2 linked regions of the Homo sapiens genome follow. The protein of the gene in region 2 purifies or fractionates together with the protein of the main gene of each other region. This does not show direct contact. Each region holds a gene or a part of one and is shown on either strand. Other genes may lie near its edges. The genes, in order: PPFIA1 and CYP4X1.

Evidence for each region.
Region 1: the proteins of CYP4X1 (region 2) and PPFIA1 purify together in Homo sapiens (affinity purification with mass spectrometry; 3 studies listed by BioGRID and IntAct, with this or other methods). This does not show direct contact.

The regions. Positions count from the first base shown.
Region 1 is NC_000011.10:70,277,060-70,280,880, reverse strand, and holds part of PPFIA1 (liprin-alpha-1), read right to left. Parts: intron 2,267-3,821; exon of another isoform or gene 1,478-2,266; intron 1-1,477. UniProt on the Homo sapiens protein: May regulate the disassembly of focal adhesions. May localize receptor-like tyrosine phosphatases type 2A at specific sites on the plasma membrane, possibly regulating their interaction with the extracellular environment and their association with substrates.
Region 2 is NC_000001.11:47,026,663-47,030,483, reverse strand, and holds part of CYP4X1 (cytochrome P450 4X1), read right to left. Parts: intron 495-3,821; coding exon 353-494; intron 1-352. UniProt on the Homo sapiens protein: A cytochrome P450 monooxygenase that selectively catalyzes the epoxidation of the last double bond of the arachidonoyl moiety of anandamide, potentially modulating endocannabinoid signaling.

The sequences.
Region 1 (3,821 bases), on a different chromosome or scaffold from region 2:
TCTGGACTTTAGATTTTGGGCACAATAGCTCACACCTGTAATCCCAGTGCTTTGACATGTCAAGGTAGGAGGCTCACTTGAGGTCAGGAGTTTAAGAACAGCTTGGGCAAAATAGCAAGACCCTGCCTCTACAAAAAATTTAAAAATTAGCTGGGCACAGTGGCACATACCTATAGTCCCAGCTACTCAGAAGGCTGAGGCAGAAGGATTGCTTGAGCCCTGGAGTTTGAGGCTGCAGTGAACAGTGATCACGCGCGCCACTGCACTGCAGCCTCGGCAACAACAGGGTGCCTGTCTTTTTCTTTTTCCCCGAGACGGAGTTTCGCTCTTGCCACCCAGGCTGGAGTGCAATGGCGTGATCTTGGCTCACTGCAACCTCCGTCTCCCAGGTTCAAGTGAGTCTCCTGCCTCAGCCTCCCAAGTAGCTGGGATTACAGGCATGTGCCACCATGCCCGGCTATTTTTTGTATTTTTAGTAGAGACAGGGTTTCACCATGTTGGCCAGGCTGGTCTCGAACTCCTGACTTCAAGTGATTCACCCACCTTGGCCTCCCAAAGTGCTGGGATTACAGGCGTGAGCCACTGCACCCAGCCACCTGTCTCTTAAAAATTTTTATATACATATATATTTATATATATATATGTATGTACGTATATATATATACACACATATATACACACATGCTAGCTCATGCCTGTAATCCCAACACTTTCGGAGACTGAGGCAAGTGGATCACTTAAGTCCAGGAGTTTGAGACCAGTCTGTGCAACATGGCAAAACCCCACCTCCACTGAAAATACAGAAATTAGCCAGGTGTGGTGGCACGCACCTGTAGTCCCTGCTACTCAGGAGCTGAGGTGGGAGGATCGCTTGAGCCCAGAAGGCAGATGCTGCAGTGAGCTGAGACTGCACCACTACACTACAGCCTGGGCAACAGAGCGAGACCCTGTCCCAAAAATATACACACACACACATCCCCCACACACACACAGGCCGGACACGGTGGCTCACGCCTGTAGTCCCAACAGTTTAGGAGGCCAAGGCAGGAAGACTGCTTGAGCCCAAGAGTTCAAGACCACCCTGGGCAACAGAGAGACCCAGTCTCTAAAAACTAAATACACACACACACACACACACACACACACACACACACACACCTAGACACATACACAGAAAAGGTCTAGAAAATACGGAAAGGAGCACAAGAGACACATAGGACATGATAAAAGCCTAATGTATATCACACCATTGCACTCCAACTTGGGCAACAATAGCGAAACTCCATCTCAAAAAAAAAAAAAATGCCTAATGTACACAAAAATGGAGGCCCTCTGAGTGAAGATGAGTGGAAAATAGGAATATTTATAGAGAGAAGAGCCAAAACTTCCAAAATTGATTAGGAACCAGGCCACCAATACAACAAATACCAAGTTTTGCTAATGCCTGAAGCAAAGAAAATGTTACAAGCCACCAGAGGCAGCTTCAAATCCTGGTGTGAGGAATGAGTAGATGGTGAGATCTTGCTGTGTGTCTGATTAGTCCTTTCTCTGCCTTGCCTGTTTGAGCTTCAGCAGAATTGAAAATGGCTGGCAGTAAGGCTGGGAAGGACTCCAGAAAGGCCAACAAAGGCAGCTTCCCACTCACAAGAGAGCCAATTTGCAGTTCCTGGTGGGCCGTATTCACTGACACCTGAAATCTAGGACAATCAGTCCTGGACGTGTGGGCGCGACTGCCGCTGTGAATAGCACAGCCATCCTGGAGTACCTCACCGCAGAGGTACTTGAACTGGCAAGAAATGCGTCAAAAGACTTCACAGTAAAGCATACTACCCCTCATTACTTGCAACTTGCCATTCGTGGAGATAAAGAATTGGGCTCTCTCTTCAAGTCTACAATTGCTGGTAAAGGTGTCATTCCACACATCCACAAATCTCTAATTGGGAAGAAAGGACAACAGCAGACTGTCTAAAGGCTGCCTGGATTCCTTATTATCTCAGGACCCTAAACACTCTACCAGCTGTCCAGTGTGGCTGATTCCAGTGAACTATATCTCTGTGAAAAACACAATTCTGCCTTTCTGTAATTCTACTTGAGCAAGTTGGAAGTTTAATTAGCTTTCCAACCAACAAATTTCTACATTCAAGTCTTAACCATATTTGTTACTGTGGCTTCAAAGAAGCTATTGATTCTGAAGTAGTGGGTTTTGATTGAGTTGACTGTTTTCAAAAAACTGTTTGGATTTTAATTGTGATGGAGAGTTATAGTAACAAACATTTGGTTTTGCACAAACATTATTTCCACTCTGGTGGATAAACTCAGTAAAAGTCATATCCTCTCCAAAAAATAAAAATAAAAAGCAACCAGAGGGGAAAATAAAAAGAAGTATTACTTCAAATGGGACAACAATAACACCAAAAGCTGACTTGTCAAGAAAAAGGAAGCGAGCTAAAAAAACAATGAATTCGCTGCTACAAAATGGTGCAAGGAAATGACCACGATCCCAGTATTCTATACCCAGCAAAATCATCCTTCAAAACTGAAGGCAAATTGGGCACAGTGGCTCACACCTGTAATCCCAGCAGTTTGGGAGGCTGAGGCAGGCAGCTGCTTGAGCCAATGAGTTTGACCCCAGCCTGGCAAACATGGTGAAACATCACATTTAAAAAAAAAAAGGCCAGGCATGGTGGCTCACGCCTGTAATCCCAGCACTTTGGGAGGCTGACGAGGGCAGATCACCAGGTCAACAGATAGAGACCATCCTGGCCAACATGGTGAAACACCTTCTCTACTAAAAATACAAAAATTAGCTGGGCGTGGTGGCACGTGCTTGTAGTTCCAGCTACTCGGGCGGCTGAGGCAGGAGAATTGCTTGAACCCGGGAGGCGGTGGTTGCAGTGAGCCAAGATCACATCACTGCACTCCAGACCGGCGACAGAGCGAGACTCCATCTTAAAAAACAAAACAAAACAAAACAAAACAAAAACTAAAGGCAAAATAGAAAATTTTCAGGCAAACAAAAATGACAATTCATTATCCACAGATATGAACTCAAAGAAATACCGTAGAAAGTTCTTCAGGGAAAAGAAATATAGGCTGGGCGCAGTGGCTCACATCTGTAATCCCAGCACTTTGGAGGCTGAAGCAGGCAGATCACTTGAGGTCAGGAGCTTGAGACCAGCCTGGCCAACATGGTGAAACCCAGTCTCTACTAAAAATACAACAATTAGCCGGATGTGGTGGCATATGCCTATAGTCCCAGCTACTCAGAAGGCTGAGGCAAGAAAATCGCTCAAACATGGGAGATGGAGGTTGCAGTGCGCCAAGATCGTGCCACTGCACTTCAGCCTGGGCAACAGAGCGAGACTCTGTCTCAAAAAAGAAAAAAAGAAAAAAAAAAAACAAGAAATATAATCCCCGGCAGAAACATGAAACAACAATAAAGAATGAAGAGCAACAAAAATGGTAACTAAGAGGATAAATCTAAATAAACATTAACTGTACAAAATAATTATGATACTGCAAAAGTATATCTAAAATTAAAGTACATAAACTTGTAAGATGCAGCTAAAAGCGTGTAGTGGCTCACGCCTGGATCCCATTGTTTTGGGAGGCTAAGGGGGGAGGATCACCTGAGGCCAGGAGTTGAAGACCAGCTGGGGCAATACAGCAAGACGCTGTCTCTATTTTTAAAAATAAATATAAATTAAACTGAAATATATAAAACAATGACACAAAAGGTAGGAGGGAGTTAAATCCAGTTCAAGTATCTAAGGACTTGACCCTGGGAGACACAATGAGACTGTGCCTGGAAAAAAAAAAAT
Region 2 (3,821 bases):
CCCTCTTGAGACTTATGCTCGAGACCAGGGGTAGGAGTGGGAAGTGTTGCTGACACTGAAGTCATAAAACCCACAGAGGCCAAGGGAAGCCTTGCCTGGCAAGTCTGGTAATGCCAGCTAGGCTTTAAGTTATACCGACTTCAACGTGCCCATGCATACCTGAACAAGACAAGGGACTGGGGAGGATATGGGAATCCCCTTCAGTATTGGTAGGAAACCTGTCACCTCCCCATACTTGCTGCTGTGTCTCTTAAAGGCCCCAAACCAATCTTTGCTTTGGAATCTTGCCTATGGGTTTTATGCATTTCACTTCTAGGAGGAATAGGTCCCAGAGCTTTCCCCCTCTTCTTACCTGTTCTGCTCAGAAGTGTCTTTGCATAGTCTGGGTCATAGATACAGAAAAATGCCTGAAAGGGCCCAATCCAGAAAGGGAAGGCACGAGGGTATTTTTCAATAATTTCCTCAAGCTTCTCCATGTTATCATCCTGAATAAACTGCAGTGAAAAAAGTAAAAGTAATTAGCCAGCCAAGCTGGACCTGTCCCCTCTTATAGACACAAGCTGAGTTCAGGACCTGATAAGGTCACACAAGCAGAGGAGCCTGAGACTTTTCTGGAAGTGACATAACATGCTTTCTTTGGGACTTCTAAGCTTGGGGGATAATTCTCTAAACAAAGTTAGTGTATTTATCTTCTCAATATTAATATATCCTGTACCCCCAGACCAAGTCACTGTTGAATGACATTTACTGTGAACTCTTGTCCCAATAGAGGGTGAGCCGAGTCACACTCTCTGCCTCACTTGCCAACATCACACACTCAGATTGGAGTGGGATCTGGAAGCTAAAAAGAAGTATTTCCTATGTGGGAAACTAACAGTTACTAAATGGGGCATGACCCTACATCCAGCTCACCATTTCTTCTTCCTGTTCCTCTCTCTAATTATGCACCAGTGATTATTTCTCATGACTTAGCAGTAAATGCTTCTCTCTAAAAAATTGCCAACTCTATCTATAAAGAAAATCCAAATTCTCCCCCCAACAACAGAAGGTCCATTTACACAGATGTGTGAATCTTAAAGCAAACTCAAATACAAAACTTTCAGCTTCCAACATTTACAAATGAGAGTGCAAATACTACCACCAGAGAAGGAGTTTTTGCTTTTAGAAGCAGATGAGTAATGGCTCACTTAAATTGTTTCTCTAAATCACTGAAAACAAGATTCATTTACATTTGCTTCTTGTGTAAAGTGGAGGGCACCTGCATGTGTGTGTTTTGGTGTGCCCATCTACACACTTGAGCATGATGGTGGGAGTCCCCCGCTGCAAAGTAATCTTAAGGCTGCCAGATTTTTCCTCGTGTGACCAATCACACGGTATCTGCTGCAGGATTGTTTGCTCTCATCCTCTGGAGAGGTGGACAACTCTGGCTCCCATTTTTCTCTGTTATCATTTAGCAATTTTAACCCATAAAGTGTTCTCTGGATAGTTCAAGGCCACTGAAAGGTTGAGAGTCTTGAAACCTAGTTTCTAAAATACTGCACTTTTTTGTTAATGTTGCCATAATCAAGCCAGTGATAAGCACCCACTGACTATCCAGAGTAGTGGTTTTCAACAATGTGAATATTTTTTCATTTATTCATTTACAAACAATAAACACACAAGTATTTATTGTCTATCACACGTACCAGGTGGTAGAGATACAGAGAAATATAAGGAAGACAAGGCCTTTGCCCTCATGAATATTGTAAACTAATATGACAATTGTTTGTTTAGGTAAAAAATTTTCATAAACACCCCAGCCATATGAAAGTATTTCATTATACTTTTTGTAACTCCTGACTAGACAAAAAGGACAGAAAACTGTTGTGAATACTGTACTATATTTAATTTATATTTCTTCATCCCCAGAGAAGCATCTAAATACACTTGAAAACGGGTACTACATATATTTAGTAAACATTGTTCAGAAATGTTCAGAAAATGCATAGTGCCCCCAAATAGCAACAGCGAACATTTATCAAGCACTGCTATGAACTAGGTGCTGCTAAATGCTTTCCATGTTCTATGTTATTTAATATTTACATCAAGAACCCTATGAAGTAGATATGATTACAATCCCTACTTTAGAGATGAGGAAATTGAGCCCTACAGACTAGGTTAAATGATCTGCCCAAGTGTGTACAGCTGGCAACCACTAATGAGGATTCAAACTCCAGTTTAACTCTGGAGCCCAAGTGCTTTATACTACTTAGCTACATAGATGTTCTCTGCAGTACATCCAAGTACACATGCAGATGCACACACACATACACACACACACTTGCATATGTACATCCTAGGTCCCATATGTTGGCTATTGAATAAATGTCAAACCACCTGGCCTATTCTATGCAGTAAATTGATCTTTGAATAAATAAATTTTCTCAGCACCTAATATATTTATGCATTCAACAAAGGATTTATTGAGCACCTATTATGCACCAGGAACTGTACCATGCACTAGGTTTATAGTGGCAAACAAAGATCCTACCTCTCACAGATTTTATATTGTAGTTAGTGGTGGATAATAAATGAACAAGCAAAAGAGTATACAGTATAGTGTCAGAGAGTGATAAGGGCCAAGATAATAATAATAGGGTTGGAGATAGAGAGTACTAGAGGTGCTATTTTAGTCTGAATGGTCAGGGCAAGCCTCTTTTAGGAATAATTTGCAGGGAGAGCAATATAACCACAGACGTGCATGTTCAAAGCTCCAAGGGAGGAATATCCTTGGCATGTTTGAAGACCTGTATTACTAAGAGTAAGGAATGAAATTCTTATCTTGTAGGGAATTTTCCCTATACACACTTTATCCTTCTGTAACCTTATGACTATACTTAAAATGTTACTGTCTTTAGATAGAAGGAATAAGTTCCAGTGTTCAATAGCACTGTTAACAATAATGTATTGAATATTTCTGAAGAGCTTGAAGAGACTTGAAATGTTCCAAACACAAATAAATAATAAATGTTAGAAGTGATGAATACCCTAAACACCCTGATTTGATCACTGCACATTGTATGCACGTATCAAAATATCACAGGTACTCCATAAATATGTAGTTATTATGTAGCAATAAAATGTTACTGCCTATGTAAAACAGTATCACCTTTTGAGCCTTAGATACTAGATTTCCCTGCATGGTGAATCACCAAAAGGATCCTGATCTGATAAATGGGGAGGGTTGGTAATATTAGACAGTTTGACATGTCCGTCATCTCTGATCTGCAAAATTCTGATAGAAACCTCTCAAAAACAGAAAAAAAAAAACTTAGTGACAGTCAAGAGGGAATGTGGACTCTAAAACACTATGAATGCAATAAATAGTCTGAAATGAAATTAAAAAGAACAAAACAAATAAATTTAACAAAAGAAATGCAAGATGTATACTTTGAAAAATACAAAAACATCGTTAAAAAAAATTAAAGAAAGCCGGGAGTGGTGGCTCACGCCTGTAATCCCAGCACTTTGGGAGGGTGAGGCGGGTGGATCACGAGGTCAGGAGTTCGAGACTAGCCTGGCCAATATGGTGAAACCCCGTCTCTACTGAAAATACAAAAATTAGTTGGTGTGGTGGCATGTGCCTGTAGTCCCAGCTGCTTGGGAGGCTGAGGCAGGAGAATCGCTTGAATCCGAGAGGCGGAGGTTGCAGTGAGCCGAGATTGCGTCACTGCACTCCAGCCTGGGCGACAGAGCAGGACTCTGTCTCAAAAAACAAAAAAAAACAACAAAAAAAATTAAAGATGACCTAACTAAACGGAAAGGCTTTCTGTGTTCATGGA